Linked DNA regions of Homo sapiens: all the other regions are linked to region 3. The links come from fine-mapping of genetic effects on gene expression. A gene starts in region 3. Each other region holds a variant in brackets. All regions are shown on one strand. Distances are from middle to middle. Region 1 holds the start of ZNF70 (zinc finger protein 70). Region 2 has its middle 69 kb from the start of GGT1. Region 3 holds the start of RGL4 (ral guanine nucleotide dissociation stimulator like 4).

The links. PIP is the estimated chance that this variant, and not a neighbour inherited with it, causes the effect.
Region 1: its variant is fine-mapped to the expression of RGL4 in whole blood (TOPMed, PIP 0.98).
Region 2: its variant is fine-mapped to the expression of RGL4 in whole blood (INTERVAL, PIP above 0.99).

What each region holds. Positions count from the first base shown.
Region 1 is chr22:23,745,120-23,753,341 of GRCh38, forward strand. ZNF70 (zinc finger protein 70) reads right to left here and starts at 5,993. Exons shown (of 2, transcript NM_021916.4): 1 at 5,592-5,993; 2 at 1-100. The coding sequence starts at 21. VPREB3 (V-set pre-B cell surrogate light chain 3) reads right to left here. Exons shown (of 2, transcript NM_013378.3): 2 at 7,624-8,079. The coding sequence ends at 7,757. RefSeq lists enhancers at 210-710, 711-1,211, 5,751-6,426, 6,309-6,368, 7,209-7,268 and 1 more and a silencer at 5,709-6,158. The variant A/G (reference allele first, on the strand shown) is at 4,457.
Region 2 is chr22:24,666,357-24,677,472 of GRCh38, forward strand. No RefSeq gene overlaps it. Among named protein-coding and RNA genes, the nearest start is that of GGT1, 69 kb to the left of the region's middle. The variant A/G (reference allele first, on the strand shown) is at 6,048.
Region 3 is chr22:23,685,379-23,696,494 of GRCh38, forward strand. It overlaps RGL4 (ral guanine nucleotide dissociation stimulator like 4), which reads left to right and starts at 5,635. Exons shown (of 11, transcript NM_153615.2): 1 at 5,635-6,831; 2 at 6,957-7,150; 3 at 7,291-7,613; 4 at 8,381-8,596; 5 at 8,969-9,072; 6 at 9,572-9,641. The coding sequence starts at 6,653. It also overlaps the pseudogene GUSBP11. RefSeq lists a silencer at 1-78 and an enhancer at 10,042-10,542.

The DNA.
Region 1 (8,222 bases), 58 kb after region 3:
TGTTGCTGGGGGAACCTCCATTGTGAATCTGCTATCATCCCCAATGGTTGTATTTCTTTAAAAATGTTCTTCTTTGGGCCACACTTACTGTTCTCACAATCTGAAAAGAAAACAGGGAACTCTGTCAAGTCAGCAAGTCAAGCAGCTCATATGTGCCTGCTTCATATCCTAGAATCTATGGTAGAAACAAGAAAATACGCATAAGACACAATCTTGCCCTTAAGATGATCCCAAATGAGTTAGAGGCAAGTTTTGCTTACCAGAGACAATTGAAGGCAGACAGACAGACACAATCAAGTGCCACATCATGGTGTCTAGACTCAACGGGCTGAAGGTGTTCAGAAAGGTGAGCTAAAACAGGAAGTGGGGGCTGGGTGCGGTGGCTCACACCTATAATCCTAGCACTTTGGGAGGCCGAGGCAGGCAGATCACTTGAGGTCAGGAGTTCAAAACCAGCCTGGTCACATGGTGAAACCCGGTCTCCACTAAAAATACAAAACAATTAGCTGGGTGTGGTGGTGGGTGCCTGTAATCCCAGCTACTAGGGAGGCTGAGGCAGGAGACTCGCTTGAACCTGGGAGGCAGAGATTGCAGTGAGCGGAGATCAGCCCACTGCACTCCAACGTGGGCAACAAAGCGAGACTCTATCTCAAACAACAACAACAACAACAGCAACAACAACCAGGAAGTGGGGCCATTGCAGAAAAGGAGCAAGACTCCAGCTACTGGGTGACATTGGGGGCAGGTTTTGCTGGGAAAGAGAAAGAGAGCTCTTCCCTCTACCCTCCAGTCGCACTCCCTCCAGCCAGGTGCCCCAACCTGGGAGTCAGCATAACCGCTCTTATTCTCACCCGACCGGTCCCCTCTTATCTACTTCCTGAGGCTGCATGGGCAGCGTCTCTGTCTCTCAGTCCTCACTGCCACTCTGCAGCTCAGGCTTCAGAGCTACCTCCTGGGATCTTTTCAGGGCTGGCCTCCAAACTAGCTGCTGACCTCCGGCTTCCTCCTCTCCCTCTGGTGCATGCCCTACACTAACAATGGAGTCAAATATCCAAAACATAAGCCTGATTATGGTGGTTCCCTTTTTTTTTTTTTTTTTTTTTTTGAGATGGAGTTTCACTCTTTCACCCAGGCTGGAGTGCAGTGGCACGATCTTGGATCACTGCAACCTCTGCCTTCCAACTTCAAGTGATTCTCCTGCCTTGGCCTCCCGAGTAGCTGGGATTACAAGCGCCCACCACCATTCTTGGCTAATTTTTGTATTTTTAGTAGAGACCGGGATTCACCATGTTGGCCAGGCTGGTCTCAAACTTCTGATCTCAAGTGATCTGCCTGCCTTGGCCTCCCAAAGTGCTGGGATTACAGGCGTGAGCCACCATGCCTGGCCTGGTGGTTCCCTTCTTAGGATCTTGTGACAGCCCAACTCCTTCACACCTGGCCCTTCCAATCCATCTCCTGTCTGTCTGCCCCATACACCTCTTCTTTTTTATTTGAGATAGGCTCTTGCCCGTTGCCCAGGCTGGAGTATAGTGGTGTGATCTTGGCTCACTGCAACCTCTGCCTCCCAGGCTCAAGTGATCCTCCCACCTCAGCCTCCTGGGACTGCAAGTGTATGCCACCACACTCTGCTAATTTTTTTAATTCTTTCTTTTTGTAGAGATGAGGTCACACTGTATTGCCCAGGCTGGTCCCCCCAACACTTCTAATTTTCCAGCTCAATGACTAATTTGCACTGCTGTTGTCTGGTCCTAACAGGTAAGGACCATTCTCAGACTGCCACTTGCTCATCCTTCAGGACTCGTCCAAATGTCCCTTTTTCTCTGCACCCTCAGGTTCTTGACCATCTCAGGCCCCCATCGTTAGCTTGAAAATTCCCTAAGGGCAAATACTGTGCTCCTTCATTTCAGAATCCCCAGCCCCCAGCACAAAAGCACAATCCCAATGTACACAGTTGTTGAATAAATTATCAAATGGAGGAAAAGCCATTTGTTTTTCTAGAACTGTCACTTTTTTTGGTCAAAGAACACTTTAGTCAAATAAGTCAACTGTCTAGGACAGGGGTCCCCAACCCCCAGAGTGGGGGACAGGCACCAGTCTGTGGCCTGTTAGGAACCAGGCCGCATAGCAGGAGGTGAGCGGAAGGTGAGCGAGCATTACAGCCTGAACTCTGCCTCCTGTCAGATGAGCAGTGGCATTAGATTCTCATAGGAACTGGAACCCTATCGTAAACTGTGCATACGAGGGATTTGGTTGTGCACTCTTTATGAGAATCTAACACCTGATGATCTGAGGTGGAACAGTTTCATCTCAAAACCATCCCCCATGTCCCCCACCCATTCATGGAAAAATTGTCTTCTGCAAAACTGGTCCCTGATGCCAAAAAGGTTGGGGATCACTGGTCTAGGAGACATAAATAAATAAAACAGACAAGTCCGGGCGCGGTGGCTCACACCTGTAATCCCAGCACTTTGGGAAGCCGAGGTGGGCAGATCACGAGGTCACGAGATCGAGACCATCCTGGCTAACACGGTGAAACCCCATCTCTACTAGAAATACAAAAAAATTAGCCAGGCGTGGTGGCAGGTGCCTGTAGTCCCAGCTACTCGGGAGGCTGAGGCAGGAGAATGGCGTGAACTCAGGAGGCAGAGCTTGCGAGATCATGCCACTGCACACCAGCCTGGGCAACAGAGTGAGACTCCGTCTCAAAAAATAAATAAATAAATAAAAATAAAAATAAAATAAAACAGACAAAAGCAGAGCTGCTCCAGTTGAAGGAGGGCGCGTTAGCAGGGACAAGGAAGGAAGCTAGAACAGCCCACTCAGCACTCCCCCTCCCAGATGTGGCCCCTGAGGAAGCCCCAAAGAGCCCTATTCAGAAACTTCTGTGCTAGATAAAGGCAAAGTCTTCAGGTGACACAATAATGATAGCAACAGCTCATATTCACTGAGCACCTACTCTGTGCTAGGCACTAATAGGTCCTTCAAGGCACCTCATTTAATCTTCACAACTCTATACAAAGGCACAATTATCCTTATACTGCATCTAGAGAGTAACTGCCTCAGAAAAAAAAAAAAAACTAAATTAATCAGAACAGTCATAACAGAACTCATTTCTACTTGGAAAAAAAAATTTTTTTTGAGACAGGGTCTCACTCTGTCACCCAGGCTGGAGTGCAGGAGTAGAATCACAGCTCACTGCAGCCTTGACCTCCCCGGCTCAACTGATCCTCCAACCTCAGCCTCTCAAGTAGCTGGGACTACAGGGGCATATCAACACATCCAGCTAATTTTTTAATTTTTCTGTAGAGATGAGATAATATTATGTTGCCCAGGCTGGTCTTGAACTCCTGGGCTCAAGCAGTCCTCCCACCTCTGCCTCCCAAAGTGCTGGATTACAGGCATGAGCCACCATGCCCAGCAGAAATGATTTTTTTTTTTTTTTGAGGTGGAGTCTCACTCTTGTTGCCCAGCCAGGAGTGCAATGGCCCAATCTCGGCTCACTGCAACCTCTGCCTCCTGGGTTCAAGCAATTCTCCTGCCTCACCCTCCTGAATAGCTGGGATTACAGGCACCCGCCACCAGGCCCGGATAATTTTTGTATTTTTAGTAGAGATGGGGTTTCACTATGTTGGCCAGGCTGGTCTCGAACTCCTGACCTCAGGTGATCCGCCCACCTTGGCATCCCAAAGTGCTGGGATTACAGGTGTGAGCCACCACGCCCAGCCCAGAAATGATTTTTTTAAATGATTTTTCAGCCAATAGACCGACTGGATATAAAAAAAAAAGAGCACTGAACTAAAGTATTTTCTTTTTCCAGAATGGAGTGCAGTAGTGTGATTACAGCTCACTGGAACCTCTGGCTCCTGGGTTCAAGTGATTCTCCTATCTCAGCCTCTTAAGTAGCTAGGACACCATCCTGGCTAACACGGTGAAACCCTGTCTCTATTAAAAATACAAAAAAGGCCGGACGCGGTGGCTCACGCCTCTAATCCCAGCACTTTGGGAGGCCGAGGTGGGTGGATCATGAGGTCAGGAGTTCAAGACCAGCCTGGCCAAGATGGTGAAACCCCGTCTCTACTAAAATTACAAAAATTACAGCGCGTCTGTAATCCCAGCTACTCCGGGAGGCTGAGGCAGGAGAATCGCTTGAACCTGGGGGGCGGAGGTTGCAGTGAGCCGAGATCGCGCCACTGCACTCTAGCCTGGGTAACAGAGCGAGACTCCATCTCAAAAAAAAAAAAAAAAAAAAAAAAAAAAAAAAAGCCGGCCGTGGTGGCAGGTGCCTGTAGTCCCAGCTACTTGGGAGGCTGAGGCAGGAGAATGGCGTGAACCCAGGAGGCGGAGCTTGCAGTGAGCCGAGATCGCGCCACTGCACTCCAGGCTGGGCGACAGGACGAGACTCCGTCTCAAAAAAAAAAAAAAAAAAAAAAAAAAAGTAGCTGGGAATACAGGCTCT[A/G]CAGGCACGTGCCACACCTGGCTAATTTTTGTATTTTTTGTAGAGATGGGTTTTCGCCATGTTGTGCAGACTGGTCTCGAATTTCTGAGCTCATGCGATCCACCCATTTTGGCCTCCGAAAGTGCTGGTATTATAGGCGTGAGCCCCCTCGCCCAGCCCTAAAGTATTTTCAAAAATTCTTTGATCACTTCAACTCCTCTCACCCTCCCCCTCCTCTTCAGCAACCCATAATCTCCAACTCTTCCAGCTCTCTCACTCAATTTGTGCTTTTCGACCTCATGAAATCCAAGCCATTTTTACTGTAGTTCTCCTTTTCTAGCTCCACCCCTTCTCCATCCAGCTTAGACTCTCCATACTATGCGCATCACTTCAACTCTCACGCTCTAGCACCATGCTCCTCACCTCCTCGTCCGGCTGCAACTAGCCGCTAAGTCCCAGTCTTCTCGGCCAGTTCCTCCTAAGTTGTTAAATGTTGCCAAGAAAAATCATACAACTATGTATGGCACCACGACAAATTTCGAGTTTCCGATTTCAGCTGGGACCTCAGCTCTGGCATTCTATGACCTCCTTATTGCCAATCCCTCTCTTCTCGGTCTTCACCTTCCCACCCCATCTGGCACTGCTCTCCAATACCTCCTTCTCAAAACCCTTCATTTCAGAGGTTGCAAATTGGCAGCCTGAAGATCCTGCTATGTTATGTTTGGCTCTCGAAGAGTTTGGCTTTTCCTGTTCATTTTCCTTAGTTACCAATATTTAAAACTCAGTAGGTTTCTGGCTTTCTCTTGAAAAACGAAGATGTGACAATATCCCTTCACCCGCCCACATTGCCTACCTAGGTGCATGAAAGCTTTGAGCTACCCCCCAACCCCATCCCCACCCTCGCTTTCTTCCCAATTTTCATGGCTTCCAAGTTCTCTTTCTTGATATCTTTAGATTGCAACTCTTCCTCCGCCCACCCATTAAGTCCTGGTGTTCTCAAACTTCCCTCCGTAGAGGTTTTCCATTCCCACTATATAGCCCCTACACCCTGAAGTCTCCACTCAGAAAAAAGTTGGCAACCCTTTATCTGTCTCCCACAACATGATAAGTGTTTTTGGACCGAAAATGCAAAGATCTGGAACTCCATGCTTCCCACCTCTGTCGGGGCCTTCTCCGGGTCCTCCTGCATCTGTCATCCCATCCTCCAGAGAGTCCCTAGGGCCTGGGCACCCTGCAAACTCTTAGTGCAGTCAAGGTTTCCTGGCTGGGGGCCCAAGAGTTGCCACGGACCCGCACACGCTGCCCAGGCGGCGACGTGGCGCCCCTACAGGCTTCCCCGCGATTGGGGACACGCACACCCAGGGCCACCGGAGGGACAGGTGGTCAGGCGGACTCAGGTCACACCGGCGGACGCGGGGCCACTCACCTGGGCCGGGGCGGGGCAGCTCACCTGGGCCGGGGCGGGGCCGCAGGCGGGCGGGGCGGGGCCGCACCTGAGCTGCTCCAACCCGCGGCCGACGCGGCCGACGCTGCCTGGCTCCACAGCAGCTGCTGACGCGGAGCCCGCGGCCGCCCGAGCACCCAGAGCCCCGCCCCCGGCCCGCGGGCACTTCCGGGACCACTCTAGGCCGCGCGGAGGTCCCGGCGTCTCGGTGGTCCCACCGCGCCGGTTGTCGCCGCGCGAAGCCGCCCGGGCCCCGGGACACAAGGACCCGAATCAGGAGAGTCTCTCCAGTCGGCATGGTGGCTCTGGCCGTCCCCGAAGCGCGTGCTGGACGTGGGGGAAACAGAGATGGGCAGGCGTTGGCAGGAGAGCAGAGGAGGAAACAGGTCCGGACGGGCGGGCCGACCTCGAGCCGCCGGCACTCGGGGCATCTGCGCTGGTGCTGGGTGCAAGCCAGAAGCCACTGAGGCAGCTGGGGTCTTCAGGGAAAGGAGAGTGGAGCCCCAGAGCTGTCGACCCTGTCACTGTCCACAGGCACCGGGGTCCTGTTAGGATCCCCCTCCCCCAACCTGCTTCAAGGGTAGCCCTGTTCCTGTCTGCCCTCCCCGCCCCCACAGAAATAGAGATGAGAAGGGGCAGGCGAAGAACTAGGAGTGTCTGCGAGACCATCCCAGGACCCTGAGCCCCCCAACTCTCTGCATCCCAGGGCTGACTTCGACATGAAGCGCCTCCTCTCAGGCGCACCGGGAGGGAAGAGGAATGTGTTCTTGAAATGGCCGCCCCCTTGGCCGGGCGCGGTGGCTCACGCCTTTAATCCCAGCATTTTGGGAGGCGGAGGCGGGTGGATCACGAGGTCAGGAGTTCGAGACTCAGCCAGACCAACATGGTGAAACCCTGTTTCTACTAAAAATTATCCGGGAGTGGTGACAAGCGCCTGTAATCCCAGCTACTGAGACAGGAGAATCGTTTGACCCTGAGAGGCGGAGGTTGCAGTGAGCCAAGATAGTGCCATTGCACTCCAGCCTGGGCGACAGAGCGAGACTCCATCTCAAAAAACAAAAAAAAAAAAAAGAAAAGGAATCTCCGCCCCCTCCTTGCTGCTGATGGCAAGACTGGCCCCTCCACCCAGTGTTCTGCCCATGACACCCCCCCCTCAGGTGCAGCTGCCCAGCTTGTGGGAGAGCTTCCCTCCGCAGACCTTGGCCCAATCACAGGACATCAGGAGAACACACTGTCCCTGGGAAAAAGGATTCTGCCCCAGCCGCCCACCTGCCTTCAGCACCCTCAGCCTTGGCGCTCGAGTGCCTCCAATGCTACCCACACACACCTGCCTTCCTGCCCCATTAATGCTCTGTCGGGCCTTGGGCACAGACTCCAAGGGGTAGGCAGTGGCTGCCCCTCCCCAAGCCAACAGCCTGAGCTCCATGGGGACCAGCCACCCTAGAGCCATAACCCTTGGACCATAACCAGCCATGCAGAGTTGGGGGCGGCAAGGGCTGGTTCCTTTTTCTCCCTCCGGCTCCTCAGGTCACAGGAAGGTCAGGCTACCAGTTTGAGCCCCCAGGGGGCCATGGTGGGGGAGTCTGGGCCATGCCCCAATAGTCTCAGGTGCTTCCTCTTTGACAACAGTCCCCAGAATCCCCATTCCCCCGCACACTGCTCCCCACCCCAGGAGTGGGTCTTCGACTCCCAGACCCACCACAGTCATTTTTCTCAGCCAGGATCTTATGACCCTCACAATAGCTGTTGTTGACATGTTGAATATTATTAACCCATTTTACAGAGGGGAAGCAAGGCTCAGAGAAAGTTTAAAAGGGACCCAAGGTCAGGGGCAGAAATGGGAGGCAGAGGGGAGGCACCCATCTCACACCCCACCCCTAGGGACTAAAGCCGTAGCCAACAGAGCAGTAGTAATCCGCGTCGTCTTCAGGCTGCACGGGACTAATGGTGAGGACACAGGCATTGTGGGCCTCATCCTTGGCTGCCGAGAATCGATCGGGGATGTCAGCAGGCCGGTGGTGATCCTCCTCCGAGCGGTAGTAGAGGAGATATCGAGGGGCACTGCCTGCCCGCTGCTGGTACCAGGACACACCGTAGTCCCTGATGGTGACGTGCTGGGGGCTGAGCGTGCAGGAGAGTTGAGCCACTTGGCCTGGGAAGACCAGCAGTGCATCCAGCTGGGCCAGGACTGTCTGGGAAACTGCGAGACACAAACCCACTCAGCCTGAGCCCCTTCCCTCCCACCCCTGCCCTGTGAAGGCTTGGTTGGACTCCATGGAGACTCCCAGTCCCAAAGGGCTCATAGCCCAGTGCTATGGGATTAGCAATGAACGGGGTGCAGGA
Region 2 (11,116 bases), 980 kb after region 3:
TCATATATGCCATTTATCAAGTTTAGTAGGTTCTCCTCTATGTGGAGTTTTGTATTTTTTTAATAAGGAATGAATGTTGGGTTTTGTTTAGTGTTTTTCTGTGTGTATTGAGATGATCATATGGCTTTCCTGTTTTAGTTTACAATGTTGGTGAGTTACATTGACTTTTGCATTTTTTTTTTTTTTAAGACGGAGTCTCACTCTGTCACCCAGGCTGGAGTGCAGTGGCGCAATCCTGGCTCACTGCAACATTTGCCTCCTGGGTTCAAGCAATTGTGCTGCCTCAGCCTCCCAAGTAGCCAGGATTACAAGTGTGCACCACCACACCTGGCTAAATTTTGTATTTTTAGTAGAGGTGGGGTTTCGCCATTTTGGCCAGGCTGGTCTTGAACTCCTGACCTCAAGTGATGCACCCATCTCAGCCTCCCAAAGTGCTGGGATTACAGGCATGAGTCACTGTGCTCGGCTGATTTTTGAATGTTAATCCAACCTTGTATTTGTGGGATAAACCCTACTTGGTTATGATGTATTATCCTTTTTTTCTAGATTGTTAGACTCAATTTGCTAAAATTTTGTTTGTAATTTTTACATTTATTTTCACAAGAGATATGGGTCTGTACTTATCGTAGTGTCTTTGTCAGATTTTGGCATCAAAGTAAATGCTGGCTTCATAGAATGAGTTGGGAAATCTCTGTTTTCTGGAAGAGTTTGTAAAGAATTTGTTTTATTTCTTCTTTAGTGGAATTCCTGAGTGAATCCATCTACACCTGGAGTTTTCTTTGTAGGAAGGTTTTTAACAACAAATCCAATTTCTTCAATAAATATAGAGCTATTCAAATTACCACTTTTTGATGAGCTTCGGTAGTTTGTCCTTCAAGAAATTAATTTATTTTATCTAAGTTCTTGAATTTACTGGCATAAAGTGGTTCCTAATAGTCCCTTATTATCCTCTCATAGCTGTAGAATCTGTAGTGTTGTCACCCCTTCCATTCCAGGCCAGTGGGGTGACTCATGCAGAGTAGAGGGAGTTGATGAGAAGAGAAAGGGAGAGACACATAGTTGCCAGTATTTTTCAGCAGTAATTCATGCTGTTCACATCATACCTTTGATTTTTGTCTGTTTTTCAAGTAACAGGCTGAGGCAGAAGAATCACTTGAACCCTGCAGGTGGAGGTTGCAATGAATTGAGATCACGCTATTGCACTCCAGCCTGGGCTACAGAGCAAGACTCCATCTCCAAAAAAATGAAAATTAAACATAAGTAAATGTGAATTTCAGATAAATAGCGATGACTCTTTTGGTCTAAGTATACCCTAAATGTTGTCTGGATAAAAGACACTTAGGTGAGTGCTGTGGCCAGGAAGGCAAGAGGGATGGGGGACCAACCAGCTAGAGACAAGGGAAGGTATCACTAAGGACACGGCAGTGGAGCTGAGTCCTGAAGTGACACACGAGCAGTTATTTCTCAGGGAAGAAAGTGGTAAGGGGTTTTCAGGGGTAGGAACAGTAGGAGCCAAAGTGTGGGTATGTGAGAGTGTGTGACTATGTGTGCACGTAAAATGGAAATGAGACGGAGGGATGGGTTGGAGCCTGGATTTGAAGAAGCAGGTATCGGCGCTGGGGTATTTGGCCTGGGACAGTGAGGCATTATTTTACAGAAGAGTGGCCTGGTGGGATGTGTGCTTTAGAGTGTGGACACACAGCTGTGGCACAGAAGGATTGCTGGCAGGGGAGGGCGACAGGAGGCTGCCAGAGTTGTCCAGCTGGACTTCTTCCCTGACACAGACAGGCTGGCATAGGATTGGTGTGGTAGTGGGGATGGGAAGGAGGGAATGCCGCGAGGTCAGGAACTTCCTCCAGTCGCCAAGAGGCGTCTTGACCGTTTAAAAATGTCTCTGAAGACTTAGCACACCAAGGCCCCCTATAGTCCCAGGGTATAGGCCACCCTTGGGATTAGAAGAAACCCCTGGGAGCTGTGGTGGGGTGGGTGTGGCTGTTGGAGGTGCCCCTATTCAGACTCTTGCTCTACCATTTGCTTTGGGATCACCTTTTACAGTGGATCGGATATTATAATACCCACTTCTTATGATGAAAAGGAACTGAATGAGTGTGGAATCCCTAGGACCCCGCTGGAATATAATGGGCCCTCGGGGTTTAGTTTCTTTCCCTCTTGCCGGTGAGGTTTGAGAGGGACTGGAGAACAGTGGATTTTGACCATCCATTTGGGGTTGTCAGTCTGTGCCAGGCCAGCTGGAGACTACAAAACGGAGGTACAGGTAAGCAATGAGGCCCTGTGGTTCATTCTCAGATTTCATTCCGGGAGATCAGAGAGAGCCCTTTCTGGAACTGTATCCTTTCTTGGGAAATATGGGTGGAAATCCGAGGGCCCTGTGCATAGATTTTCCCTTCTCTTTCAGCTCTGCCAGCTGCCAGAACTGTGGCTTTCTCAGCAGATTGTCTGTACACATGAGACCTTATTTACGGAACGATTTACAGAAAGACAAACCCTTCCTTCCAAGTTTAACCAGTCCCCTTATACCAAGGTTTCCCAGCCTTGACTGTATTGATATTTTAGGCTGTATAATTCTTTGTCGTGGGGGGCTGTCCAGTGTGTTGTAGGGAGTTTACTAGGATTCCTGGCCTCTTACACACTCACTGTCTGTAGCACCTTGCCTCCCACCCAGTTGTGACAACCAAAAATGTCTACAGACAGTGCCAAATATCCCCTAGGGTACAAAATTATCCCCTACTCCTCATTAAGTACCACTGCTTTATACTCACTAGACACAAGGAAAAAGACCTTCTTTTATTTATCTTTTTTTTTTTTTTGAGACGGAGTCTTGCTCTGTCATCCAGGCTATTGCGCAGTGGCGTGATCTCGGCTCACTGCAAGCCCCGCCTCCCAGGTTCATGGCATTCTCCTGCCTCAGCCTCTCGAGTAGCTGGGACTACAGGCACCTGCCACCACGCCCGGCTAATTTTTTGTATTTTTAGTAGAGACAGGATTTCACCGTGTTAGCCAAGATGGTCTCGATCTCCTGACCTCGTGATCCGCCTGCCTCAGCCTCCCAAGGAAAAATAACTTCTTAGCATTTTTATTAATTTCTTTTTAACCTAACCAGTGAAATGCTTGTTGAAAAAAAGACTTCATTTTTACTAAACTGAATTTGAATTCCAATCTATTTTAACTTATTTAGTTTAGAAAGGCTTCCTTTGCACCATTGTCAAACTTTCAAATATAAAATTTTAAGTTGTTTTTTTTTTTTTGGACATAGTCTTGCTCTGTCGCCCAGGCTGGAGTGCAGTGGTGTAATCTTGGCTCACTGCAACTTCTGCCTCCTGGATTCAAGCGATTCTCCTGCCTCAGCTTCCTCAGTAGCTGGAATTACAGGTGTCTGCCACCACACCCAGCTAATTTTTGTATTTTTAGTAGAAACGGGTTTTCACTATATTGGTCAGGCTGGTCTCTAACTCCTGACCTTGTGATCCGCCCTCCTCAGCCTCCCAAAGTGCTGGGATTACAGGTGTGAGCCACCGCTCCTGGCCAATTATAAGCTTTTTAGAAAGGATTTTTTCTAAGGGTGGGGTTTCTGAGTCACTGAAATAACTTGCCATCCCTGACCTTGGACTGTTACACCATTTTTCCTTTGACCTTTGATCTGTGATGAAGTAACTTCTGGAAGTGGGATATCAGGAGTTATGTTCTTGTTGGTTTACACATGTTATTTTTTACAAGAACTCTATAAACTAGATTTTATCAGTTCTTTTTTATAGGAGAAGAAACAGATTTGTAGATACATAAAGTGATTAAGTGATTTGTCCAGAGTCACACAACTTGGATGGCAGAACTGGAGCTTGAACTCAGGTCTCTTGACCTTTAAGTTCAGTTCTCTACTCACTGTATGGGAGACCCGGAAGGAGATTCTTTTGGTGTGTCACATAGCCTTACCATTGCTCTGTCCTATGTAACGTCATCAATTATGTGAATTATCTGACATTACAAGAGTCAGAAGGTGTCGTAGAGATGCCTTAGAGTCCAACTTCCTTTTTATTGTAGATGAGAATACTGGGTGGCCAAGTGACTTAGATTGAAGACAGCACTTGTTAGAAGGAAGACTAATGGGTTTCAAGTCAAAGTCAGAATTTAAAAGTATCCTAAATGCTGGAAACTTGAGCTGATTTACCAAATGAAAATTTTAACAGATAAAGGTTTAGATTTTTTAGAATATAGATTACACAGCAATGAAGAGGAAACGCTGGGCATGGTGATGTGCTCCTGTAATCCCAGCAACTTGGGAGGCTGAGGCAGAGCTCGGGCTGTAGTGTGCTATGATAGAGAAAAAAAATTAAGAAGAAAAGGAAAGAAGTGGGATGTTGCTTACTGTACAGTTTTTTCAACATTTCTGCATGTTTGTAAAATTTCATAATAAAACATTAGGGGAGGCTGGGCTGCAGTGGCTCATGCCTGTAATCTCAGCATTTTGGGAGGCTGAGGCAGTGGGATCACAAGATCAGGAGATCGAGACTATCCTGGCCAACATAGTTAAACCCGTCTCTACTACAAGTGCAAAAATTAACGGGGCGTGGTGGTACGCACCTGTAGTCCCAGCTACTCGGGAGGCTGAGGCAGGAGAATTGCTTGAACCTGAGAGGCGGAGGTTGCAGTGAGCCGAGGTCGTGCCACTGTACTCCAGCCTGGCGACAGAGCGAGACTCCATCTCCAAAACAAAAATAAAAGGGGGAAAAAAGAGAACAGTAGCTTAGCAGCAGTTTGTGTGGTAAAAGACTTGAAAATATTAGATAACCATGAACTTATCATGAGCCTCTGGAAGCTCCTAGAAAAGCAGATTTTTTTTTCTTAGATTAAGGTAGGAGCAGCTCAGTTTCTAGATCGAGGGAAATAATAGTCTTGCTGAGCTCTGTGCTTGCCAGACCAGATCTGTCTTGTATCTGTGCCCACTTCCGAGGTGCCTGTCATACTTTGATGCCAGTGGACACAGGGTACTGAAATCTGGAGGAGTGGATGGGGAATGTGTGGTGCTGACTTGGAAGGAGGGCCAATTTAGGGAATCGCCATGGTGGTCTTCAGATACTGGGGGAGTTGTGGAGTGAGAGTGGTACTTTTATTTTGAACATAAAGCTTAGATTAAGGGAGAGCAAAGACATTACAGGGAATTAGATGCCCATTCTGTTTTCCTCATCCCTGACCCTCCCATTCTGTATCTTCAGTACAGCAGCGCAGGTTAGTCTTTGGGAACTGCAAGTCAGGTTATAGGACTGCACGGCTTTTATTCACCGTCCTGTGTCACATGAAGCCCAGGGCTTGACTGGTCTTCTGGCCCTTGCCGACAAGTCCTCATTTTGACATTTCTGTATTCTAGCCATACTGTATTCTAGCCAAGTCATTAGAGTTCTTCAGTTGAACCTGTGTTTACTCTCATACCTTCGAGGTGTACCTCCTACTTTGTTGCCCAAAGTAAGGCAGAATTGGGGATCTTTCTGCTTCCATTGTATCCTGTACATATACTTGCCCTGTTTTTTGTTTTTTAAAGTAGGTTCATAAAGGATGGGGACCTATTTTGTTCATTTACATGTCCTGTTTATTCCTGTAGACTGTGAACTCCTTGAAAGTAGGTATTTTTGTCCTAGTCCTTTTTTTTTTTAGATGGAGTCTCACTTTGTCGCCCAGGCTGGAGTGCAGCGGCATGATATCGGCTCATTGCAACCTCTGCCTCCCGGGCTCAAGTGATTCTCCTGCCTCAGCCTCCCGATTAGCTGGGATTACAGGCACGCACCACCATACCCAGCTAATTTTTTATATTTTTGGTAGAGACAGGGTTTCACCATGTTGGCTAGGCTGGTCTCAAACTTCTGACCTCAAGTGATCCACCTGCCTCGGCCTCCCAAAGTGCTGGGATTAGAGGCATGAGCCACTGGGGCCGGCCTGTCCTAGTCTTTATATGCCCATATATTTGAGTCCTCCTTGACTAGGTTCCCAGAGAATTGGTGCTTGGCTTGCCTGGACACGGAATAAACGTTTATTGATAA[A/G]TAAATGTTGTGCCCACAATGACTTGTCTCATAACTTTTTAGTAGTCAGGATCCTCCCACAGTAGACTCTTGTAACTACAAGAATATTTTTTTTGTCGATGTTGCACGTAGAGTTTCCTGTAAAATGGCTTCCAAGATATTTTTCATTTCTAGTAAAGAGTCTGTGAGCCGAGTTTTAAATAGTATTATTTCTACCTTATGTGGTAGGTAAGAGACAGCCCTTTGTTTTCCTCAGGAGGTTTTAATTATATGATCTCCTTGTAGAAGTAAAGGAAACTCTGGAGCTTCCTGTGTGGCTGTGAATGTGTAATTAGCTTTGGGCAGGGCTCCCAGAGCTGTGAACCCTGTCCTGAGGAGCACTGGGACATTCTAGTGAGCGTTCAGGCCACCCAGATTGCAGCCTTGTAAATGAAGGGTTTATTTCTCTAATGAGAGTGGTTTGTGTCTTCACCCAAATAATATTTTAATATTAAATTATGGCAAATATTTTAAATTTAAAAGTAGATATATATAAATTAGTATGATTTTTAAAATAATTTCAATAATTGTTTTAAAAAGTAATTTTAATACATGTCAATAATTTATTTTAGACTCAAGGGGTACACGCACAGGTTTGTTGCATGGGTATGTTGCACGATGCTGAGGTTTGGGGTACGGATCCCGTCACCCAGGTAGTGAGCATAGTTTTTCAACTCATGCCCATCCCTCATTCCCTTCTTCCAATTAGTATGATTACAACTAAGAATTTTACTTTTACAGCTCTAATTTAATACATATGGATCTAGACCTGGCAATAAATATTCTGCTCTAAGAAAGGTTTTATGTTAAATAACATGGTAGTTAGTCCCTTCAAAATAAAAAATGTTGATTAAGAATACCAGCACGGTCCCGGCGCGGTAGCTCACACTTGTAATCTCAGCACTTTGGGAGGCCGAGGGCGGATCATCTGAGGTCAGGAGTTCGAGACTAGCCTGGCCAACATGGTGAAACCTGTCTGTAGTAAAAATACAAAAATTAGCCAGGCGTGGTGGCAGGCGCCCGTAATCCCACCTACTCGGGAGGCTGAGGGAGGAGAATCACTTGAACCCGGGAGGCAGAGGTTGCAGTGAGCTGAGATCGTGCCATCGCACTCCAGACTGGGGGAGAAGAGCAAGACTTCATCTCAAAAACAAAAAGTATACCAGCACTGATGACAACATTGGACAAGTAGACAGATCCAGAAGGGGCAGGTTGAGCTGTGTAGTTTTAGTGTTGTCACGGTTTGTTAATATGTTGTGAAATATTCATTGAGATCAAAATCTGGCATTCCTAACTTGTGTTATGTGTATATTGGAGGCCATATGGAGTGGCAGAAGTGAAGTGAGGTTTGAATTCAGACCGTTGTTCCTCAAGAATGAATTGACCTGGAGAGAATTACTTGCAATCTCTGATCCTTAGTTCCTTCATCTAGACATACCCACCTGGGACCATGTGAGGATCCAGTGAACTGTACAAGGTACCACACAGGACATGGTGCTTGCTGCCTGGGGGAGGCTCAAGGCCTTCAGTGCCTTTCCCTGTTATTTTGGGAGTAGTGCATCTATTTTGGTGTTTTTAAGAAACACTGTTTGACAAATACATGAGGCATACTTCATGGACTATTGTTTCAGATTATTCTTAGAACACAGAGGCAGGATCCACAATGTTTTTATGAGGAAAGCTACTTTTTATTCCCCCAAACCTTGACTTTCCTGGACTAGAGGTCTCAGTGATGTGTGCTGATGTGACACCCTTGAGCAAAGTTGGAGAAGAGAGAGTGGTAATTTCCACCACTTCCCCTTCTCCAAGACACTGGAAGTGCTGTGAACTGTGCTCCTTCGCTCCTCTGCTCTGTAATCTCTACCTGGAGGGCTCTAGAGGGGCTCTAGGGAGGAGTGTCAGCCAGTGATTTCTCCATCTCGACCAGGTAGGGACCCAGGATCTTCTGGTGAATTCTAATTTGTTTTTTTATGAGCCTGAGGGTCATTTTAGGAATTTGTGGAAGCATTTGTGATTGTCTCAATGGTTGGTGGGTGCTATAGGCATTTATTTAATAGGTAGGGCCCATGGAATTCAAGGCTTAGTGTGGTGACAGTTCTGTAAAATAGAACTTTTCCTATGATCTGCACAGCTTTAGAATATCTTTTTTTTTTTTTTCTGAGACCAAATCTTACTCTGTCACCCAGGACAGAGTGTAGTGGTGTGATCCCAGCTCACTGCAACCCGGGTTCAAGCGATTGTCCTGCCTCAGCCTCCCAAGTAGCTGGAATTAAGAGATGTGCCACCACGCTCGGCTAATTTTTGTATTTTTAGTAGAGGCGGAGTTTCACCATGTTGACCAGGCTGTTCTCGAACTCCTGACCTCAGGTGATCCATCCACCTCGGCCTCCCAAAGTGCTGGGATTACAAGCATGAGCCACTGCGCCTGGCCTAGAATATCTTGCTGAATAACTTATGTAGATAGAAAAAAACTGTTTAAGGCTGAACCTATAACTGAATTCCATTTTACATAAAGGATTTTTTAAAATGTAATTTTAGTAGAAATGGAAATTTCAGGAAATGGAATTAGTCTAGACTTTGAAGGGAAATTATCTCATTTTGTTCTTAGTTTTACTAAGTGTATTACTAGTCTTGGTTCTCTCACATATATATATATATATATATATATATATATATATATATATATATATATGTATCCAGTGGGAAAGAGAGAGTGAGATATGTTTATATATATAGTATATTTAACTATATTTAACCAATATATATGATTGTATCACACGCATCCTATTGGTTCTGTTTCTCTGGAGAAAATATAAGTATTCACCAGTTGCCCTTTATCTATGGTTTTGCTTTCCATGCTTTGAGTACCTCATGGTCAACCAAGGTCTGAAAATATTGAATGGAAAAATTCCTGAAACAAACAGTTGGTAAGTTTTAAATTGTGGACTGTTCTGAATGACATGATGAAATCTTGTGCGGTCTCATTGTCACACCTGGAAATGAGTCCTCACTTTGTCCGATGTATCCATGCTGTGTGTGCTGCCTGCCCATTAGTCCCTTAGTCTTGGTTATCAGATTAACTGTCTGGTATCACAGTGCTTGTAACCTTTATTTCACTTAATAATGGACCCACAGTGCAGGAGTAGTGATGCTAGCATATTGTATTATTGCTTACTTTATTATTAGTTATTGTTGTTAATCTCCTACTATGCCTAATTTATCAACTTAACTTTATCATAGGTGGTATGTATACATGGTCCCCAACTTGCTGTGGTTCGACCTAAGATTTTTCAACTTTATGATGGCGTGAAACTGTCACATTTTTAATGTCATGTATAATATTCAATAAATTACATGAGGTGTTCAATACTTTATTATAAAATAGGCTTCATGTTAGATGATTTTTGTCCACCTATAGGTTAATGTAAGTGGTCTGATCATGTTTAAGATAGGCTAGGTTAAGCTATGACGTTCAATAGGTAAAGTGCATTAAATGAATTTTTGACTCTTGATATTTTCAACTTACGATATTTTTATTTCATCATAAGTTGAGGAGCATCTTTATGTATAGGCAAAAACATAGTATATATGGAGTTGGGCAATATCTGCATTTTTAGGCATCCGTAGGGGTTCTTGAAACATATCCCCCTCGGATAAAGGGGAAGCATTCTATTTATAACAAGATCCTTATTAAAGGAATTGGCTCATGCAATTATGGAGGCTGAGAAGTCCCAAGATCTGCAGTTGGCCAGCTAGAGATCCAGGAGAGCTGATGGTGTCATTCTGATCTGGCTCTGAAGGCCTGAAAACCAGGAGAGCCACCGATGTAAGTTTCTGTCTGAAATCCAGCAGGCTTTAGACCCAAGGAAAACCAATGTTTGTTTCAGTTTGAGTCGGACGGCAAGCAGAGATGTCCCAGCTCAGCAGTCAGGTGGGAGGGGCTCCCTCTTACTTAGCCTTTTTGTTCTATTCAGGTCTTACAGTTGATGAGATGAGGCCCACCCACATTAGGGAAGTTAATCTGCTTTAGACAGTCCACTGAATAAAACGTTAATTTCATCCAGAAACACCCTCACAGAGACACCCAGAGAAATATTTGACCAAAAGTCTGGGCACCCCATGATGCAGTCAGAAGACACATAAATTAACCATCACACTAAGAGTGATTCATCTTTTTAGGTAAATGAAGAATCAATCACATTATTGATAGCATTCATGATAGGTAGTGTGGTACCTGAGTTGCCAAAATGACATACTCAAATGAAGAGTATTTGTAGCTGTGAAATTCAGTGATTCAACTTAGAGATGTGGATTTCTGACCATTCTGCCTGAAAATTTACATATTGAAATTTATATTTATTTATTAAAAATGGTTTTTATATCATAGTTGCTGTGTTAAGTAGATATTTTTGGAAGATATATCTAATAAATAAGTTATTTCTGAATTTCATTTCAGGATAGTAAAGGTATATTTTCAATTGTTTTTAAAGAAAGGGGATGAGGCATGATGGTTCACACCTGTAATCCCAGCTACTCGGGAGGCTCATTGGGAGGATCCAATGAGCTTGGAAGGTCAAGGCTACAGTGAGCCATGATTGCACCACTGGACTTCAGCATGGGTAACAGAGTAAGATCCTGTTTCAAAAAAAAGGTGCGCAGGGGGTATTTGGGTCTGATATGGCCAAGAACCAGCGGTCTAAGTGATCTCAAGCTGCCAGCCTCCTTGAGCAGTCTGCATCTCAGCATCTTTAAAGCTTTGACTGTGTTTCTTTTCTCCGCTTGGACCTCTGCAAAACCGTAGTCTTTCTTCTTATCAGGTCTTTCACAGTGTTGGGATATATTTTCCAGAAATGTTTGTTCGATGTTGTTCATTAGGTTGTTTTTTTTTTTGAATTTTAGCTTTATTGATATGTAATTTATATGTCATACAATGCACTTATTTAAAGTGTAAAACTTAGTGGTTTTCAATATATTCATAGGATTGTGCAACTATCACCGTGATCTAATGTTAGAACTTTGCATCACTCCAAAAAGAAATCCTGTATCCATTA
Region 3 (11,116 bases):
TCACTCAACTTCAGTCCTGCACATGGATGCCTTTGACCATGGGGTCATGGCTTTGGTCTCCTGCCATAGGGGCAGTGAGAGGAACAATGGTGGTCTGGGAAGGAGGATCCTAGACTGGGTGTCCCACAAGACCAGGCTGTGACAGATCCCAGAGCCAATACTCATGCGCCAGCCAGTCCCCAAACCCAACAGCTACCCAAAGCCCAGGATATAAATAGCCTGTGCACTGCTAAGCAGATACTTCAGGGAATGATCTGCTGGCTGTGAAGAAGATGCGGCCTCAGTAGGGTTCCACGAGCCTTCTGCCAGCAAAATCTTCTTTGCTTGGATGCCCATTAGAAACACTAAGGGAGCTCTTCAAAGGAACAGGCCAGACATGGTGGCTCACATCTGTCAACTCAGCATTGTGGGAGGCTGAGGCAGGAGGACAGCTTGAGGCTAGGACTTTTAAGACCAGCCTGGGTGGAACAGTGAGACCCCACCTCTACAAAAAACACAAAAATTAGCATGGCATGGTGGTGCATGCCCATAGTCCCAGCTACTTGAGAGGCAGAGAAGGGAGGATTCCTTGAGCCTGGGAGATCAAGGGTGCAGTGCCCATGATCATGCCACTGCACTATGGCCTGGGCAACACTGCAAAGTCCCGCTTTCAAAAAAGAAACAAACAAAACAAAACAAAACCAAAGATGCCTGTCTCCTGCCCCATCAAATAAATCCAAATCTCTGCAGGGTGACACAGGGTATTAACATTCTTAAATTTTGCCTTTGCTGAAGTAAACATATAGTAATGGCTGAAAACCACTGCGTTATGTAAATACACTTCCTATGACTTATTTGTAGTCCTTTTGTATCTAGCAATTTCTACAGACCCTCTCTGTGGGCTTCGGAAGCCAGAATGGGCAGGGCCAGGTGTGAGGTGTCCTAGGACACTGAGGGTAGAGCACAGCTCCCAGCTCAGGGGGACCCATTTCTGAGGCTAAGGCACCCACCTGGGGCTCAGCCTATCTTCAGAGGGAAAATCACACCTCAGAACACCAGACACCCAAAAGAAAGCTCCAGTTCGGCAGATACCTGCCAATAGACCCTGGAGTGGCTGCCCCAGGGAAAACTGCCATTGCACTGTCAGCTCCCTCCAGCCCTCTCTCAGGTCCCAGCAGGAGCAGATTTCTGACTAAGCTCAGAGGTCTCAACAAATGGCAGGTTGAACATCAGAGGAGTTATTAATAGGCCTATAGTTACCTCAAGACTCCACCTTACCAGGGCCAAAAATGAGTCCTGGGAGGGCAGCCAGAAAGAAAGTAGGGCAGAGAGGAAACACAGGGAGAGGGGCCCTGGGACCACGTCAGATATGGAGGGAACCAGGGGAACGAGAGCAGCCCTGATGATTGTACTCCCCACAGCCCCTGCATGCCTGTGAACCCTGAGAATTCAGGGTGAGGAGCTCACTCTTGCCTTTCACCTGTTCCTGGGCTCTGGCAGGCTGGCCTGCTTCCTGCCCCAGCCTCACCCACTCTCCGCACTCCTCGCCACTGATGTGGGCAGCTGATCTCTCCGGTTTGCTGGGCTCTCACCCTCTGCCCAATGGCACCAAGTTAACTTCTTCGCATGCTTTATTTTCTGTGATTAAAAAGGGAAACAATTCTCACTAACGCCATTTCTCAGAGGAGAAAACAGGCACAGGGATGTTCTATGACTTCCTCACGATCACCAAGCTACAAGGGGGAGCTGGGCTTTGAATGGAGGTCTACCCATGCTCCTAAAGTTGAGGCGTCCTCCAAGGAAAGGACAGCACCTATAAAAGCTCAATGAATGGGGCGGCAGTGTCACCACTAAGCCCGACCACGCTGCTACTCTGATATCCAACTTCCAGCCTCCAGAACAGGGAGAAATACAGTTCTGTTTTTGATGAGCTCCCCAGGCCGTTACAGCTCTTTCTTTGCTGTAACAGCCTGAACTAGCCCAGAAGTGCTATTCCATCATCTGTGTCATATTCCATCATTCAGAAGGGAGTCACTAACCCCTCAGTGCTGTCTCTGTGGACGCTGCCCACCCTAGGCTGAGATGAGGCACAGGGTCTGGGTCTAAATAAAATGGGAAGGCACTGGAAGGTGCAATGTCATAGGAGGAGGATGTCTGAATTTCATTTAATCTCAACCTCTACTGGTGCAGCATGAAAGATGAGGCCCAGAGCAAAAGTGTCTTTTCCCGAGATCACACTGTGGACCCCAGGCCCACTGGAGTTGCATTAGACGTTACCTCTCACCCCTTCTTGTATTTGTTCCATTTCTAAGTGTGTGCAATATCCACAGGGAACACCACACCATGAGTTTTTAAATATTTATCTCAAACATAACCTCATGAGTTCCCTAGGAAAGAGATGCTAGCATAACCCCCATTGTGCATGCTGGGGAGACCCCAAAACACCAAAGGAGTTCTCTAGGGTCTCACAACTGCTAAAATAAAGGCTGTTTGACCCAGCACTGTCTCCTCAAACCTGGGACCCTGGTTATATCCAGGTCTTCCCAAGGTGCTGAAGGGGCACACTTTTTCATAATGGTGACTACGTAAGGAGTTGACGGGGGAGGGTGAGCGGTCAGAAGCCCAGAGGGGCCTTTGAGTAGGACTTATGGAAAGGAGGAGCTTACAGGATGGAACCTACAAGATGTGACCTCACTTCCTTGCCGACAGACCCCCAACAGAACTTACAATTCTGGTAACTAGGCACCCACATTCTAGAGACAGCCCCATTTCCAGCTCACTTCGTAGGCGATGCTCGAGAGAACAACATGTTCTCCTGCTGTATCCCGACATGCTGCCGACCTCCTCGTCGCACAAGAGGCCAAAATGAGAGTCTTTCCCGAGAATATAGACATTGGTTCAACCCTCACCCTCGACGCCTCTGGCCCTTTGCCAGAAGGCACCCACAGGTAACACAGGGCCCAGGGCAGGCCCATCCAGGCTAGGCCTCAGCTGTGCCCATCAGGGCAGCCTCAGGCCCCTCCCCACTTGTTTGGGGGAAACAGGAGATGAGGGGCCCTCCCTGGATAGGAGCAGGTAGGTTGTCAGGTGTTTGGAGCCTGGTAGGTATGTCAGGTTCACAGCCCAGGCAGTGCCTGGCAGGATGGGAAGGTGAGTGTCAAGGACACAGTTTGTCTGCTCAGATCTGAATCCCAAGTCCTCAAGCTGTCATCTGCCGGAGACCTCAGGCTTCTCTGGCTGGAGGTCTATGCAGATGCTCCTATGTGCCAAATCCTGTTGGGGAAGGGGGTGCCAGGGATGAGTTCTAATGGGGGTGTCCCACTGTGGGGTCAGCCAGACAGGCCACTGACACCTCTTGGCCCGGCTCTCGGGCACTCTCTTTGCAGAGCTCCACACAACAGACCAAACAAGAGCTGTTGGATGGATTCAATTTCTCCATATTCTTCAAAGGGCACGTGCACCACACCACCAACCACGTCCAGTGCCGGTCTGCGGTGAGATTGGGCACAGAAGGGTCTCCACAGACAGGACTTGTGAAAACCAAGGTGGGCCCAGGACTCAGACACGAATATGGGGACTCCCTAAGCTCCATCCTAGGGCGTTCCCACTTGAGTGACCCACTGTCCTCTCCCAAAGGAATCTGGCTGCCATTAGTCCCCAGTGGCAACTTGGTTACAGGCAAAGTCCCTTTCACCTATCAGAGGAAGACCAGAGAAAATCCTTCTGTTTTCACTTTAGGCTATGCCAGGAGTATCTCGGCATGTTGCTTTAAGAATTGAGTACAATGGTAACATTGCAGCAAAATACTCACACTGTTATCATTTTAACTCCCCACCCTAAGTGGATCTCCGGCAACAGGCAGGCAGCTCCGCTGCCCTGCCAGACCTCCTCCAGGACTTAAAATCCAACACTTTTGCACAAACAAGGGGTGGGGGTGGGGGGGGTGCATTGATTACAACAAAAGAAGGTGAAGCGACTCTATGCATTAGTCTTTAAAGTGTCATCTCACAGAACTCATCCCTGCAGCCCCATCAGGCAGGAGTTGTACCCTCGCATGTCATTGTAACATTCCTTAAGGGAGGCCATTTTCCACAGCGGGTCAGCCTCTCAGTGCTGGTGGAGCCTGTCATGATAAAATTCCCTTTCGAGGCAGCCTTTCTACAAGGAGCATAATCCTATGCGTGTCCTAATAGGCTGGAGCAGTTTGCCAGGGCTGCCATAACACGGCACCCTGACTGAAGGGCTTAACCACAGAAATCTGGTTCCTCACAATTCTGGAGACTGGAAGTCCAACGTCAAACTGTCAGCCTGGGGTGGTTTCTCTGGGCCTCTCTCCTTGCCTTGGAGATGGCGGACTTCTATCTCAGTCAGCACAGGGTCTTCTCTTGAACTTCTCTGTGCGCTGACCCCCTCTCCTTGTAAGAACCCCAGGCATGTTAAATTAGGGGCCACCCTAATGAACTCACTTCACCTGAATTACCTCTTGGAGTACTCTGTGTCCAGACACAGTCACATTCTGAGTCTCTGGGGTTGAGAATAGAAACAGTTACATTTGGGGAAGGGGACACAATTCAACCCATAAAATAAACAAATCCCCTGCAGCAGACAGACACCCAGGAAAGGGATATCTGGGTGAAAGGATATGCAGATATCAACTTTCAACAGCTCTAGCTAGTTGACTTTCCAAAAGGGCTCCAGCTGGTCACACGGTCACCAGCAGCCTCTGAAGGTAGCTGCTTCTCTGAACGCAGCCTCCCCTGAATACTAACACGCTTTTAACTTTTCGCCAACCTGCTGTCTGTGTGGCAGAGAAAATCCTTGTTTCATTTCCACTTTCAAACATACATTTGCGTAACCTTTCACGGGTTCAATACCTGCCTGCGTTTTCCCCAAGTCGCCTCGCAGATCCTGGGCCTTGGGACGCGCTTCCTCCCACCCTGGAGTCTTCCGGCATTTTCCCCTTGGCCAGGGCTGGGATGGCCGTAGCTGTTTCTCCAGACTCACGTTCATGTTAAAGGAACAAAAACAATCATATACCTTTAAGTCAAAGAGTTCTTCTAGAGCGTATTGTCCTGTGTGCTGTTGCTGAAATGAGGAGGGGATGAGGCCTCCCCAGGCCTTGAGGACTTGCAGGGATGATGCTCTTCATGCAGGTTGCTGACACAGAGGGTGCTGTTGCCCCACAGCTGACAAACACCGGGACGATGCCTTGAAGGCAGGAATCGTTTTATCATTCTCCATCCTCACATGCAATGTTACTTTGAAAGCCTAGAACGCTTTTCACCATGGGCACCCAGGTTCTCCATATGCACAAGTCCCTGAAGGGTTGGTGCTTCTTGGTGTGAGTTCCAGATCCCGATCCTCTGGTGGTCCATGGTGTTACCACTGACTCCCATGTCCCTCCTTGTCCCCCTAGTATGAAAATGAGATCTGCAGGATGCTAACTTTCCAGCCCGGCACTGGGGAGAAGCTGTTGGGAGTCCCTGGTTCCAGCCTTTCTAACTAAACCCATCTCCTCCTATGCCACCTGCCTGGGCCCCTCCTGGGACTTTATCACTGTGCCACACTTTTTGGAACTACTGGTTAGAAGGTGAGTGTCCATCCCCCTCCAAGACACAGAGGTGCCTCTGTCCCCTACTGGCTCTGTCTTGAAGATGCACCTCTCGGAGCCTCGGTTGGCTCCTCTGGAACAGGGAGTAGTGAGAAGACGAACCTCACAGGGTTCTTGTAGGGACTCAATGATCTAAGACACAGCAAACAAAGGGGTCCCTAGAGCCTAAAACTCTGGAAAATCTGCTGGGGGTGCTGTGATTCATGTTTGTTACTTTTCTCTTCCCCCTCACTTGAAGCAGCTCTCAGCATTCTGCCTCAATGGCCTGTATCACTCACTGTTTGGAAAAACACATAGAAACCAAGTCTGCGATGGCACTGGTAAAGGATGTCTGAGATTCCTTCTGGCTGGTCTTTCTCCTTGACACAGACAGAAGAGGGGTCCCTTGGTGCTGAAAAAGGAGCCACAGGCCCACTCAGACATCTGGAGAGGCTCACTGGGGTTCTCCAAAGGTTGGGGTTCACTCATTCAACACATACATTCAAAACACCTCATTTGTGCATCGCTCTTCTTGGGGCTTGGCATAATTTCATAAACAAAGCAGATGACAATCCCCCGGCCTTGATTCTACTCAGAGTCAGGCACTCACAGTAGACAGAATAAACAAGTCATATCTACAGAATGTTACAGGTGAGACCCTCATGGCCTCCTCTACGTATGGTGGCATCCTCCCAGATTCTGACTAGAATGACGCAGCCCAGCAACAAATATAAACTGGGTGGATTTAGGGTTCTGAAGGGCCTTTTCACCCACAAAACATGGGGGAAAATATGTGGACTCTGGCTGGGGAGAGACTAAAGGAGCTCTGGGGCTCATACTTCTTATAATTCCCACGAGAAGGCTGACATCTGGGGACTTCCCCCACAAGAGGCAAATAGTGAGTTCTGTAAATGGAGACTTAGGTCCCCTGCAAAGCAGAGGGGAGGCTGGGGTCACAGCTGGCCACTGAGAGACCCATCCCCCTCAGCACCGTGGCTTCCCAGCTCTCCCTGTCCTCCTCCCCCCGACATCTGCCCCTTCCCTCCTAACCCCAGGACCAGGGGACCCAGATCTGGAGCTTTGATGAGGAAGCTGCTCACAAATCTGCCTGCAGCTGCAGTCTTGAGTGCCCAGGTGTACAGTGCTGTGCTCCAGGGCCTTTGGGAAGAGAATGTCTGTGGGACGCCAGGGCGCACGAGGGTCTGTACAGCCCTGCTGTATGGCCAGGTCTGCCCCTTCCAGGACAGCACTGATGGCTTACGGTAGGGTGGGGCTGTCCTCCACACTGGCAGCAACAGGCCAGGGACCCAGAACCACGCAGGGGTGCCCTGGAGGGTTGTGTGGGAGAAGGCCAGGCCTCTGACTCAGCTGTCTACTCCATCACCAGCACCATCACCTCCATTTTGTTCAACTGGCCCCCCGAAAACACTTCAGTTTACTATCAGCCCCCGCAACGGTCATCTTTCCGGATAAAGCTGGCCTTCAGGAACCTCTCCTGGCCTGGACTGGGCTTGGAGGACCATCAGGAAATTGTCCTAGGCCAGTTGGTGCTTCCGGAGCCCAACGAGGCCAAGCCAGATGGTGAGGGGGCTTGCAGTCTGCAAGACTTTCCGGGGGTGGTGTTTTGGGGCTACAATTCCCTTAAATTCCACCCGGTCATTTCTGTGCTTGGAAAACCCAGTGAAAAATGACTGGTGTGGTGACCTTTTCTCCTTTTCCAGATCCTGCTCCACGTCCTGGGCAACACGCATTAACAATGCCGGCCCTGGAGCCAGCACCACCACTGCTGGCGGACCTGGGGCCTGCTCTGGAGCCAGAGTCACCTGCAGCCCTGGGTCCACCAGGATATCTACATTCAGCACCAGGGCCAGCACCAGCACCAGGGGAAGGGCCCCCTCCAGGGACAGTGCTGGAGCCACAGTCAGCCCCAGAGTCCTCCTGTCCCTGTCGTGGGTCTGTAAAGAACCAACCCAGTGAGGAGCTGCCTGACATGACGACCTTCCCTCCCAGGCTGCTGGCAGAGCAGCTGACCCTCATGGATGCGGTGAGCAGCTGAGCTTTGCAGGCTGTGTCTCTGGCACCAGCTGTCTCAGACCAGCCTCTCCCTGAGGAGCAGCCAATGCCCTCGGTCCAATTTCAGCCCCACTTCTTACCAACCGTGGGATCTGGATGAGTTTCCTCACCCACAAGCCTTCCCTGTCTGCATGTGGACGGCAGAGATGGGACATCACCAGCGCCAGCTGCACAGAGTGACTGTGCAGACTGAGTGACAGGAGATGGACAGAAAGCAGGGCAGGGCAGGTGCTCACTGTGGGGCAGGCAGGGCCATGGGTCACTCACCCAGCTGCTCAGGAGCCTCACTACCCTCAGCACTTATTAGGTACCTGATGCATACTGGATTCTATGGTAGACACCCAAACAGAGCCCATAGTTGCAGCTGCCACAAGGAAAGTGCACCGGTACGGAGAGGAGTAGTAGAGGGCTGATTGGGATGGGAGGAAGACGAGGCCTCAGGATGGGCAGGCCTGAGCCACCTTCTAGTTCTTAGAGTGTGGATGGCCTGGGAGAAAATGTCACTCTCTCTTCCCACCCTTGTTGGGTTCTAGGCCATGATGCATTCAGGTCCCTCGGGGGCAGAAAACCAAACCCAGGGACTCCCACAAGTCTGGAGCCCATTTTAAAGCTTTCTGAGCTCCAGCTTGGTTCCTGCCAGAGACCGTGGATGACTGTGAGCTCAGTCCCTGCCTGGGACTGTGGGTGACTCTGAGCTGCAGTGTGCTGTGTCCGTGACACTCTCCTCCTCCCCCAAAGGAGCTGTTCAAGAAGGTGGTGCTCCACGAATGCTTGGGCTGCATCTGGGGCCAAGGACATCTGAAGGGGAATGAGCACATGGCACCCACAGTTCGTGCCACCATCGCACACTTCAACAGGCTCACCAACTGCATCACCACCTCCTGCCTCGGGGACCACAGCATGAGGGCCCGGGACAGGGCCAGGGTGGTGGAGCACTGGATCAAGGTGGCCAGGGTAAGCTATGGTTGGGCCTGGGGATTCCCTCTTTAAAAATGGGGAACTTCCTCTTCTCCTCCATCGGCTTTCAGGATCGGCATCTGTATCTCTGGCCTGGACCCTGCACATCCCCTAGGCTCTTCTTGCCAGAGCTTCACTCACCTTGACTCCCACGGCCCAGTGGTGGCTGCTCACTTCCGACCTGGGGTCTTCCTTGGGTTGAACTAAAATCCTCCTAGATGAGTGACATCCACTCGGCCCCAGGTCTGCCCTCCTGAGGCTCCCCAGGCCTCTGCTTCATCCAGGAGGGGAGATCTCAGCAGAGGGGGCTGAGGCTGTAGTGGGCCAAGCTCCAACTCTGAACCGCACAGCTCATTCTTCCCTCTCCAGGAGTGCCTAAGCCTCAACAACTTCTCCTCGGTGCACGTCATCGTCTCTGCTCTGTGCAGCAACCCAATAGGTCAGCTACACAAGACGTGGGCAGGAGTGTCCAGGTGAGGAGGGCTCTCTCCATGGCAGCATCAGGGTTGACCTAGGGACTCACAGGTCTCCCCCCATGTGCCCTCAATGACTCTGAAAGGTTCTTGGAGTCCAGGGACACTGGAGGCAGGGATGGGCCGGTGGCTGTGGTCACTAAGCTGCCCTGGACTCCTAGGCAAGGATTTCCAACTCAGGACTAAGGTTTTTTAACCATCAGGAACAGACTGGAGCCAACTGGAGGCTTTCAGGTGTTTGTACCCAGCAGTGGAACTCTGTGTCCAGCTGAAAGCTAACTGTAAACACGCAGTGGCTCATGTGAAGTGGAGATGGGGCCCAGGGGAGGAGCATGAGAGGTCCCACCCTGGTCCTCTGGAGCCCCTGTGATCAGAGGACTCCACTGAAAACTCTCACCCAGTAAGCTGGGATTCACTGGGTTTTCAAACAAAAGGGACTGGAACTCACAAATCTCCCCTGATTCCCAAATTTACCCTTCTTTCTTTCCTCTGCCCATAGCAAAAGCATGAAAGAGCTAAAAGAACTCTGCAAAAAAGACACTGCAGTGAAGAGGGACCTACTGATCAAGGTACAGTGGAGTCTGGGAGATGCAGGACAAGTGTTTAAGGGTCAGAGAAAAGAGTGAGTTTGGAAGGGCATTGGACCAGGTGTCGAGTGGTTATTTTGTTTGGTTTTGACTTACCTACTAAAAGTGGACTTGAAAAATTCCCTCCATGCCTACCTTGGGCCAACAGGAAGAGTGGTGTGTCGGTCCATGGGCACGTGGGGGCATGGGGGCAGGAGGCCCTGGAAATGGGATGTGGCAATGGCTGCTGGGCTGCTGGGCTGCTGAGCAGGGGTGATGAGCTGCAGCATTAGCAGGGCTCTGGCTCCCATGCTGGTCCATGCTGCTGGCATGGAGCTTCCTCCAGGCTGGAGGGTGATCATGGTAGGTGGGACTTCCTTCCTTCCTCAAACCGGCCAGCAATTCCTCAGGAAGCCAGGCCTCTGCTGCTGCTGCTGCTGCTGCTGCTGCTGCTGCTGCTGTCTGCAGCACACCTCCATGGGCAGGGGGCCTTGGCCTGCACTGGGGGAGAGGGGGAACAACAACAGAGGAAGCTCATGTGGCAGGGAGTCCAGTAACTGCCCAGCTTTGGGTACCAATGGGCATACTGGGGACAGACGTAGCTGTTTGCTGGGACTCCCCACTCTGCCCTTTGCAGACACCCAAAAACGGTCATGTCAGAGGATTCTCACCGGTTAGCAGCGACGCATGCTCATGACAAGTATCTGGGGGATTCATACATTGCTAGGGGATCCTCCCTGACCAGATCTCAGAATCGTCCATGCAAATGAGAAGGCAACATGTCACCCCACCCAGGACTCTGGAAAACCCTGCCATTGCAGTCAGAGATGGCGCATCAGGAGGCTACTTCCTCAGTGGAGAAAGAGAGAGTTCCGTGCACGGAACTCCCCTGGGGGATCATTGGCGAGGCGAAGCCTTTGGCATGGCTCAAACCCAGTTTGCGTGGCAGAGATTCCAGTGGGGCTGGGATAGGCAGGTGCCACTTAACCAGGTCTCCTAAAATGCCCTGTCCCTTTCCCATCACGACTGTATGTGGCTGGAGACCTAGACACTCAAAGACTCCAGAGAACACGACCCTGATGGGTGGTGGTGCTGGGATGTGAGCTGAAGGCAGCCGAGACGGAGCCTCCAGGAGCAGAAGGAGGCGTCCTCTCTTTGGGGGCCCTGGGGAGCCACTGCCCGCTCTGGGCCTCTGTTTCCTCATCTGGAAAATGAAGGGATGCTGAGCCTGTAGTGCAGGCCTCACAGGGTAGAAATGAAGTTCAAGAAAAGAAAGCAATTTGAGGGTGCTCGTGCCTGGTTCTTCCTCAGAGGGATGACGGTGAGAACAACGGCAACAGCTACAGGAAACTGAGCCCTCAGAGGCCCTGTGAGGTAGCTGTGGTTTGCATCACTCTTTACAGAAGAGGAAACAGTCTCAGGGAGGCCCGGCTGCAAGACTGGGTGACACACACAGGGAGTGTGGATCTGGGCCAGTG